Homo sapiens: one gene and its partners. The protein of the gene in region 2 purifies or fractionates together with the protein of the main gene of each other region. This does not show direct contact. Each region holds a gene or a part of one and is shown on either strand. Other genes may lie near its edges.

Region 1 (3,651 bases), on a different chromosome or scaffold from region 2:
CCCTCAAAACAATTCTACCACCATTTCTTTTAAGTATTGCCGTCATCTACTTAGTTATGTAGACTCTAAGTCAGAGATTCTCACAGCAATGGAGATGGGGATAGAAGCCTGGAAAGAGGGGTCCTACTTTAGGGTGAAAGATGGTTACCGTGCCAAGGGCTGGCTCACCATCCCTCTCCTCCAATAAAATTAAGTTACTTAACTTTGTTATTACTCTCAGGAATTCTGGGGTATAAAAAGGTTAAGAATGTACTGAAATTAAAATTAGCAATTTACTACAGTATTAATAATTCAGAAGTAAAATGATATCATAGAAAATAAGGACTGGGAACAGTGGCACACGCCTATAATCCCAGCACAAGACAGGAGGATCACTTAAGGCCAGAAGCTCGAGACCAGTCTGATCAACATATCGAGACCCTGTCTCCACAAAAAAAAAAAAAAGCCGGGCATGATGGCACATGCCTATAGTCCCAGCTACTTGAGAGGCTCTGAGGGAAGGATTGATCACCTGAGCCCAGGAGTTTGAGGTTGTAGTGAGCTATGATTTGCGCCACTGCACTCCAGCCTGGGCAACAGAGAGAGACCCTGTCTCAAAAAAAAAAAAAAAAGAAAGAAAGAAAAAGAAAATAAGCACTAGGAATCTAGGAATACAGAAGGCTGGGTTCCAGTCTAAACTGTGCCATAGATGAATTGCACGACCTAGGACAAACTACGTAAACTCTCTGCTCACTTTCATTTTCTCTATGATCAAAAGATTTAGATTTCTTCAAGACCTAACTTTACTTTTATTATAAATTGCTCTAGAAACCTAACACTACTAAGGAGTATGCAGCTAAATGCATGGGATATGTTTAAATTTATTTTTTTAAATCTAGGACTGTTAAAAAAATCTCAATTTGCAAAAACAATTTTTTGGGGTGCTACTTCATGAATTTCATACCTACATAATAAGTTATTGTTCTAAGCCACAGAATAAGACAAACAGAACAAGCCCCAAGCAATGACTGGTACTTGAACAATTTAATCACTGCAATGAATTTTGAATGAACATCAAGCCAGGCAGGCATTTCTAGATAGCTGATTACTTTTCATAAAGACATGCTTAAGCTTCAATGGCAGTGTTTTATTTCTGAATTATTTAGAAAACTGGTTAGTCTCACTTACCAGAATTATCTTAAAGTAATTCACTTGTTTCTCCCACCAAACCTTTCCCACCTATTAAAGTACCCTAACTCTTAACTGCCAATGAATTAAGATTTTTAGGACTCTCACGCACTGGTGATCTTGACTACTTTTAAAATCTTAATAGCTCTGAAGTATAAACATGAAAAAAAATTCATTATTAGTGTCGAGAATTATTTGAAGCTTAAATTCACTGCAGTGAAACACATTTTGCTTAGAGTAGAAATTAATGTTTTCATAAGTAACATTTAACATAATCCTTCGTTAAAAAAATCCAAATACACTCAAAAAATACTAAGCAAGGAGTCCATTTTAAAGAGAAATGGATAGGTGTGAAAGTGAATAAACAGATTATATACCCTCTTTGAAAGTACTAAAATACTTAAATAGAAAGAAGCAAATCCATTAATTTTCTCTTTATATCACAGAAATGTGGCCTAGGTGAAAAGACAGGTCTTGAATTGTCCATGGATTTTTTTCCTTGAGAAGAAAGTCCCTTACGTGTTTACAAACGCTAAAATACAAGACAAATTGTTCGTTCCCAAAGGTCCCTAGTACATTCCTTATAAAACCCAAAGGATTAACTATTTCTTCCTCTCATTTTTTCTCTCATTTTCCTCTTATTTTTGCAGTTAGTAAAACTGCAACTATCCTGTAATTTCCTTCAAGTGTGACTAGGAGAGCGTCCTTTTAGAAGGTTGGTAAATAATTTTAAGGGATAATAAGCAATGAGAAATATTGCCAAAAAGTATTAAGCAAGGGAGCATATGCTATTTATTCTAAGTACATTAAATACGGCTTTAATGTTATCACAACTGAAGAACCAATATATACTTCCTATTATGGACTAAGATAATCAGATCAAATATAAAAAATTAGTATATCCTATTCTCATCTAAAGCACTTTCTATTCAAGAATTAAATATTTTTCTGGAAAAACATGGTCAGGGTCATGCTCTTGTAGGAAGCATCAATTTTTTTTTTTAAAAGCCCAGAAGCATAATACCTACATTTTTCTCTGGAGACATACTTCTTCAATAACCTGTTTTCCCCCTCAGATTTAACAAATAGATATATACTGTTGCTTTGCACTTACTGTTACTTCACAAGCTATCCTTAAATCCTCAGATTTATTTGATCAAAAGCACAATAATTCAGCATCTGGATTATTTAATCACATGCTTTTATATTGGCTTCATAAAGAATGAATCTACTGAGAGCTCAAAGTAAAAGCCAACCAAGCATTTCTCCTTTGTCTAATTGTTTAAAACCACTGGTCTCAAAAATCGTCATAATTATTCAAGTATTGAGGCCAGGAAAACTATAAATCAATTGTACTTTTCACTTCTTCACCTGTCTTAGATTTTTTTGTAGGACACAGATCACGAAAGTTCCTCTAACTCTTCCCCAATTCACTATACATGAAACTATCTACAAGTAACTGAAGAATATAGAAGATAAATTGTTTAAAGATACCAGGTCATTAAATAAACACTAAAAACCAAATAAAAACAAAATTCCAGTTCTTTCCTTCTTGCAGTTGAACAATCCATGCGTTCCCACAAAACATTCCATTCTCCAACTGATAAAATATTTAAGAAAACTAAAACATACATTAGAAAATATTAGGAAATGATTAGTGAATCAAAATATTTTTTTCCTTTATCTTACAATAACGCAACCATCTTTAATTTTTAAAACAAAAAAGTTAACATAATTTCTTTTACATATTAGATTTTTTAGTTCCCTCGGCAATAAAATTTATTTTTTAAAAACACAGAAATTTTAAATTTAAGTTTTTTAACTTAAATTTCTCTGTATAAGCTATTTTCCTTCAGTAATATCTTGCCTTAGTATATGACTACACACCTCAAAGCTCAAACCATCCTGAGCAACACCATGAAAGAAGAAACCACATTACCTATGTAGCACATTGCTGCTTACCCGATATTCACTGAAAGGGGTCCACTGAAGACACTAACTGACAAAATGTATAAATCCAGCTACACACAACTCCTTAAACATGAAGGAAACAAACACTTAAGAATAAGAACCTCACCAGGACTAAAATCCAGGTACCGATTCTCAGTCTACTGGAACAAACGCAGTCACATTTTGGGGAAACAGAAAGTACTACGTTCTCCAATTCATGTGCCTGGAAATACAATTCTTTAACCACCAAGAGCAAAAGAAATGAAAATAAATCTAAGATCTAAATTTAGTTGTAAATTAGAGATATTGAATGTTTTAAAAAGAATACTCGCAGCAAACAGTCCTGTCTGCTACAGCAAAATCTCACCCTCCTTCCTAAATCTGTTTTGGGGTGCCTGTGAAACCATGAAAATGGCAATTCAAACAAGAGAAATGCCTTATCAATCAAAATTTACAGTGGCTTATTTCAAAGGAGTCATAAAAAAAATCCAAATACATCATCTCGAACTCTCAGGAATAAAGAATACTGAAATT
Region 2 (3,651 bases):
GGAAGAAGAGAAAGCCACTCCCCCAGCTCTGTCATGTGGGAGACAAGAGACAGTGGAGAAGAGAAATATGGGAGAATGATTTTTTTTAAGTGAAATGCTGTGTTGTGATGTGTTCCACTCATCCTCCCCACCCACCCCTCCAAATCTTCAGAAGTATCTACAAAAAGTACAAAATCCTTAGGTCTTATATGGGAATCAGTGAAGTTTTGGCTGAGTTCTGATGGATAAAATAGAGTTAGCCCACACAGAAGAGAGAAGAGTTGACACCAGAGTTCTGTAAGTAATAATACCAGTTTTAAAGATAAAGAAACTAGGGCCAGCAGGAATAAATAACATGCCCAGAGCCACAGAATGAATGAGGGTCAGAGCAGGAATCAAACACAGGTCTGCCCTACATCACAGCCTACTAAGCTCCTTCTACTGCAATGCCTCTCAGAAAACAGGCAATAATTCACATGACAGGCAGGAAACAGAAATGGCAGAAATACATACGTACTGCCCTAAACAAATACGTGTACTTAAGCTGGGCATATACATAATAAACCCTTTTGTCCATCCTAGCCAGGCCCCGTACCTGTCATTACCTCTGATTTCGTTCAATTAGTTCACTAATCTTGTCATTCTGTTCTTCTATCCGATTGCTCTTTTCAAGGATCTCTTGCTTCAATCTTTCATTTTCCTAATTTCAAAATATATGATGTACAATTTAAGTGTCTTGGGAGAAAAGTGCCAGATAGAAGAGAATCAACTTGAACTGACAGGTGACATTGTTAACATGTTTTGAGACAAAACACTAGAACTTATGTCCACATGTATGTTAAAACAACACATCAGATTACACCTGATGGATACAAATCACTAGGTCCAATGGATTGAGTGAATAAATGGCTAAAAAAAGAAGTGAAATTCTGAAGTATGGTCAAAAAAGCAATGTTTCCTTCAGAATATATAGTGATAAGTCACTTGGACAGAATTAAGCCATAATGGATTTTCTAGAATTGTCTAACCCAGTGTAGCGTTTATCACAGGCTATTTCTGGGGTGGAGGTGTTAAAGAGTAGTACCTCTGAGAAGAGAGGATGGGTAAGACCTTCAGCCTGAGTGGTATGTTCTTAATCACCCTCACCTGAATGATTCGCTGGATGTTGCTCATAATCATGCTTGTTTCCATTGTAACTGACATGCTAGGAATAAGCATGGAATTGCCAGCACTATGTTTCTGTAACTCTTCAACCTACAAAAGGGATACCAGAAAGACCTTGTGAGAAATTATAAAATGAAGAAATACAATTTACCCAAGATTTGACCCTGTTGTTAAGGGGGTTAATGAGTTCCTGGGACAATCTCTAACTGTTAAGTTAGAGTTTTCTCCTACTAACTGGATCCCAACATAATTATAACTATCCTTGTAGGGAAATAACCTCTCACTACTACCAATGCAGGAAATCAAAGAAGAGTTTACCTACAGTTCTGGCTGCTCCCTGTTTACATCCCCACTTTCAACATCACCCCAACTCTGACTCAGTCACCTTAGTCATGAGATGATCCATTTTATCAGCCACTTTGCTGACTGCCATTCGAATTTCAGTGTTATGTTGCCGGGCTTCAGTCATGAGAAATGAAGCCATATCACCTGATCCTAAACAGATACAAGCCAAAAAGAAACTTATGAAACTGGAGCAGAGGAAACTGTATGAAGAAAAGCTAGTAGCTCTTCCAGTAAAGAAAGAAATTAATACTTCCATACACTAGGAAATGCTATAGGTGACTTCACCCTGTCAGGAGAAGATATATGGGAGAGAGTAGAGGCAAAAGGGCTTCAAAGTAAACAATAACTAAGCCGTGTTCCTGCAAAATGCATCAAGGGCTACATCTGGTCCAAGGGCACAAATATGCCCACTTTGCACTGCCACAGCACCGGCAGCTCAGATTACTTTCCCGTTCATCCAACTGTATGCCAAGCATTGTACCAGGTACCAGGAATACAGCAGTAAACAAAACACGGCTTCTGCCCTTGGTGAGCTCTCAGTCTGGCTGGGAGACTGACATGTAAACAAATCATTACAAGAGAGTGTATTAAGTGCAAAACAATGGACCATATACTAGGTATAAAAGTAGCACAGAGAAAAGCACGATTAACTCTTTGGTGACACGCGTACACAGTTGTGTTTGTGGGAAGAGAGGAAAGAGGGACAGAGAATAGTCAGGGAAGGCTTCACAGAGGGAGATGACAGTTTTGATGGATGAAAAAGCGTATCCCAGATGGAGAAGGGCAGAGCTTCCAGATAAAGGCTGCATTCAGGAAATCCTGACCAGTCCAGAACCACAAATTATGTTGCAGGACATACTGGCTTCTTCCTACCACTGTCCTAATACCAAAGCTGATTACTAAACAGAAGACTAATAGCAGAACAAGGCAGGATTCCATCATAGCAGTTTACACTTTATCTTGGTTTGATTTTTTTACATTAGATACTCACATTTGTACATGCATACAAAATATCTGAAAAGTTACCCAAGTAACTGTTAACAACAGTTTCCCAAGGTCAGGGGGTTTATGGAGGGGAAGGACAGTAACTTCACTTTACACCCTTTTGTACTGCTTGACTTTTTTATAAAAGTCTCTTATTTTCATAATTTAAAAATGTTAACAGAGTAGCTTTCATTAGAGATACTAAACACCTATAGTATTCAACTTTCTCCCAATTTCCTCCAATGTTTTGCTCTTTTACTATTTTCTCTAAACTCTAGCTACTCTAACAGAGGAATTAAAAGGGCCAGGGGAGAAAATCCAAGGAAAAAAACACAGAATGTGGACACAAGGAAACATTGGGGGATGACGGAAATGTTCTAAAATAGGATTGTAGTGATGAATGCACAACTCTGCAAATTTACTAAAACACTTTTGAATTGCACATTTAAAATGAATGAATGTGTGGAATACATATTATATCTCAACAAAGCTGTTAAAAAAGAGAAGAAACAATGAGTAGAGAGCTGTTGGTGTGAAAATGAAGGAGGAGCAAGAAGAGGGAAAGCACAGCAAGAGCGGAAGATGAGAAACTGAGGGAATTACTCCCTACCTTGGAAATGGGGAGGCTGAGAGAGCGGTGCTGGGTACAAAGGCCGAACGGGCTGCAGCTGGGAGGTGACGGCAGATGCCTGGGGATAAGCGTAGGCTTGCATACCTGCATAGGGCTGAGAAACTGACGAGTTACCACTGGTTGATAAAACATTCATGTCTTTCTTTTTTGTTCACATTTTTCTTTGGTGGAATAAAGTGGATGAGCTGGGAGGAGACTCAAACTTACTGAAGCTAGAGATGGGTGAGATCTGGGTTTGGCAGTTGGTAAGGACTGCAGCAGGAGAGTTATCTATGTATCCCAGGGGAAACCAGTCACTAAAATCCTACCCAGAAACTGAAGAAAGTGTATCTTAGGTCACTACCCAGTCATCTGGTGAGATAATTAAGCAGGGATTCATTCCCCATTATCAGGCCTATTGTCTAAGAAGTTTTTAGATTAATAAACTCTGCTTAGCTTCCATTGAGTTTAAAGAAGAAGTGCTCACTGAGATTCCAAACCAAATCTGCCAATTTCCAAGGATGCCTCTCCCCTGCTAGATTCTGAAGCTAATCCACGAGACCAAGAGC
Region 3 (3,651 bases), on a different chromosome or scaffold from region 2:
TAGGTGGGTGAGGAGGTGGGCAGGCAAGCTTAGCTTGCACCGGAAGGACACTGCGCAAGGACTGGATGGTGCTGGCGAGAGAGCGGCCAGGGGACTTCCTAGGTTCTCCGAGGAGGGGACGGCCCGAAGATGGAATGCTGAGGCTGGGATCCTGTGAGAGGGAGGGCAGGACCCGAGACTAGGAGGAGCTGGTTTGCGTGGGCATGAGGCTATGAACAGGCCCTCGTGGATGGTGAGTCCCTGGGGAGGGGGAGGCCCCTGTGGCTGAGAGGTGGCCAAGGGGACACCTAGACCCCCATCTGCATTCTCATGGGGCACCCCTCCTCCTCTCCCTCCAGTCATCTGCAAGCAGCAGACCCCGGAGCTGGAGCCAGCCGCCACCATGCCACCCCTGCCACAGCCCCCGCTGGCCCCCGCCGCGCCCATCCCGCCGGCCCAGGGCGCGCCATCCATGGACGAGCTCATCCAGCAGAGCCAGTGGAACCTCCAGCAGCAGGAGCAGCACTTGCTGGCGCTCAGACAGGTATGGGCCCGCCGCCTCCTCGGCCAGACACCAGCAGCTCCCCTGTGCCTCTGTTTTTGCGTCTGCTCATCAGAATGAATAACAGGTGTCAGTGAGGACAGGGCCCCCCCTGCCACCCAGGGCTCGGTGCATGTCAGCCACTGTCACCCCCAGCCCTGATGCCAGACACAGAGGCTGCTTCTCATCTCAGTGAAGCCACTGGACGTGCGTGCACCCATCACCCTGGGGTGGACCCCCCTGAGTGGGACTGTGGGGCACGTATGCACCTTGAAGCTCCCTAATGGCTGTGGCCAGGCAGCCTCTGGTGCCTACCATTGGCCCCACCACACAGTAGCTAGGTCACCTGGAGCTGTTGGTTGGGGAAGGACCCTTTTTTTTTTTTAAGTCTTGTTCTGTCGCCCAGGCTGGAGTGCAGAGGCGTGATCTCAGCTCACTGCAGCCCCTACCTCCCGAGTTCAAACGATTCTCCTGCCTCAGCCTCTGGAGTAGCTGAGATTACAGGCATGCACCACCACACCCGGCTAATTTTTCTATTTGTAGTAGAGATGGAGTTTCACCAGGTTGGCCAGGCTGGTCTCAAATTCCTGACCTCAGGTGATCCACCTGGCCAGAAGGACCCTTTTGTCCTTCCTGGTCCAACAGTTTGATAACTTTCGCCAAATAGAATACAGGTGCATTGGCTGGGTGTGGTGGCTCACACCTGTAATCCCAGCACTTTGGGAGGCTGAGATGGGCAGATCATGAGGTCAGGAGTTCGAGGCTAGCCTGGTCAACATGATGAAACCCTGTCTCTATGAAAAATACAAAAATTAGCTGGGCGTGGTGGTGCACGCCTGTAATCCCAGCTACTTGGGAGGCTGAGGCAGGAGAATTGCTTCAACCTGGGAGGAAAAGGTTGCATGAGCTGAGATTGCACCACTGCACTCCAGCCTGGGTGACTGAGCAAGACTCAGTCTCAGAAAAAATAAATAAATAAAATACTACAAGTGCATTGCCAGAAAAATGAGAGGAATAGAATACCAAACCTCCAAAACACCAACCCCACGCTCAGTACTAGGTTCAGGGCATAAAATCACACTGTCATATTGCTCTCAGAAAATTCCAGCTGGGCACAGTGGCTCAGCCTATAATCCCAGCACTCTGGGAGGCCAAGGCAGGCGGATCACAGGGTCAGGAGTTTGAGACCAGCATGGCCAATATGGTGAAACCCTGTCTCTAGTAAAAAATACAAAAATTAGCTGGGTGCAGTGACAGGTGTCTGTAGTCCCAGCTACGCGGGAGACTGAGGCAGAATTGCTTGAACCCGGGAAGTGGCGGTTGCAGTGAGCTGAGATTATGCCATTGCACTTCAGCCTGGGCGACAGAGCGAGATTCCATCTCAAAAAAAAAAAAAAGAAAAGAAAAGAAAGTTCCAGAATGCTCACCCTCAGCTTCTGTTCATCATGGAGTGGGAGGCCTGCCTTGACCAGCCGTAACTGACCGCTGGTCCGCATGGCAGCTCTGTTTTTACCAGTCGCACTTTAACCGGTGTTTCCTCTTGAGGAATGAGATTGCCCCCTTCTTGCTTCACTAGAGGCCATGGGTGTATCCTCTTCTTCTATTGCCTGTCGTTCACACCATGCCTCATTTGTCTTTTTTTTTCTTTTCTTTTCTTTTTGTTGTTGTTGTTGTTGTTGTTTTGTTGTTGTTAGAGACAAGGTCTTGCTGTGTCACTCAGGCTGGAGTGCAGTGGTACAGTCACAGCTCACTGTTTAACTTTGAACTCCTGGGTTCCAGCAATCCTTCCGCCTCAGCCTCCCAAGTAGTTGGGAACACAGGCACACACTACCATGCTCAACTAATTTGTATTTTATTTTTTGTAGAGATGAGGTTTCGCTACGTTGCCCAGGTGGTCTGGAGCTCCTGGGCTCAAGCGATCCTCCCGCCTCAGCCTCCCAAAGTGCTGGGATTACAGGCATGAGCCACCGCGCCCCGCCTTTGTTTTTTGTTGAGTTGGTTTGCAGAGGTTGTTTGTTCCTCTGGGCTGCAGTGTTTTCCTTGGTTACCTGGAGGGCAGGTGTTGTCTCCTGGTATGTCCTGTCAGTGCCCTGCCCACTCCAGGAGGGACTGTCACAGATTCACGGCAGGCATGAGAGACAGAATCTCCTCCTGCTGGGGACAAGCAAGGGAGCTGATGGCCAGAGCAGCCCAGAGTCCGGGCATCGCCACCATGTCCCCACCCCGCCCCTGCTGAGCCAGGCCGGAGGGCTCAGGCTGCGGGTCCCTCCTCATGTGTTCTCGACCCCACCGACCCCCGCCCGCAGGAGCAAGTGACAGCGGCCGTGGCCCACGCGGTGGAGCAGCAGATGCAGAAGCTTCTGGAGGAGACCCAGCTAGACATGAACGAGTTTGACAACCTCCTGCAGCCCATCATCGACACGTGCACCAAGGACGCCATCTCGGTGAGGGGCCAGCACTTCCCAGAGCCCAGCTTTCCCTTGGTCCCTCCCTGAGGCAGGGCCTGTCGTAGCCAATCTGGGCTAAGGGCTGTTACAATGGGTGCCCTTCCCTCCCGCCTGGAGCTCCTGAGGCTGTGGGACCCTGTGCCCCCCACGCTCATGGTGTGTCCTTCCCTGAGCTGATGGTGACGCGCTCTCAGGGATGCAGTGGGTGCCTGGGGGAGCCGCGGCCCTGCTCACTCGTCATTGGCTCGGTTGTTGCAGGCCGGGAAGAACTGGATGTTCAGCAATGCCAAGTCCCCGCCGCACTGTGAGCTGATGGCCGGCCACCTCCGGAACCGCATCACGGCTGATGGGGCACACTTCGAGCTGCGGCTGCACCTCATCTACCTGATCAATGACGTGCTGCACCACTGGTGAGCGCCGCCACCCCGTGCCCAGAGCGCCACTTCCTCGCGCTCCTCCTCAACCCTCCTGGGTGGCCGCTTGCTCCGGTCGGTAGCTTGGCTTGGCCTGTCCCGAGACTAGGGGGCACTTGTCCGGGGACCCCGGGTGGGGGGTCTCTGTGAGCCACCAGGCTTCTGTCTCCAGGACTGCGAGGTCTAGGTGTCCTGTGCACCTTCGCTGCATGCCCTGTCCTCTCCCCTAGACCCCGGCCTCACCTGTCACATTGCTGTCTCCTGGGGGCCA

Evidence for each region.
Region 1: the proteins of FKBP15 (region 2) and MIER1 fractionate together in Homo sapiens (co-fractionation; one large-scale study listed by BioGRID). This does not show direct contact.
Region 3: the proteins of FKBP15 (region 2) and CHERP fractionate together in Homo sapiens (co-fractionation; one large-scale study listed by BioGRID). This does not show direct contact.

What each region holds. Positions count from the first base shown.
Region 1 is NC_000001.11:66,931,366-66,935,016, reverse strand, and holds part of MIER1 (mesoderm induction early response protein 1), read right to left. Parts: intron 1-3,651. UniProt on the Homo sapiens protein: Transcriptional repressor regulating the expression of a number of genes including SP1 target genes. Probably functions through recruitment of HDAC1 a histone deacetylase involved in chromatin silencing.
Region 2 is NC_000009.12:113,183,167-113,186,817, forward strand, and holds part of FKBP15 (FK506-binding protein 15), read right to left. Parts: intron 3,198-3,651; coding exon 3,083-3,197; intron 1,639-3,082; coding exon 1,529-1,638; intron 1,234-1,528; coding exon 1,126-1,233; intron 680-1,125; coding exon 585-679; intron 1-584. UniProt on the Homo sapiens protein: May be involved in the cytoskeletal organization of neuronal growth cones. Seems to be inactive as a PPIase. Involved in the transport of early endosomes at the level of transition between microfilament-based and microtubule-based movement.
Region 3 is NC_000019.10:16,532,324-16,535,974, reverse strand, and holds part of CHERP (calcium homeostasis endoplasmic reticulum protein), read left to right. Parts: intron 1-338; coding exon 339-523; intron 524-2,826; coding exon 2,827-2,964; intron 2,965-3,225; coding exon 3,226-3,377; intron 3,378-3,651. UniProt on the Homo sapiens protein: Involved in calcium homeostasis, growth and proliferation.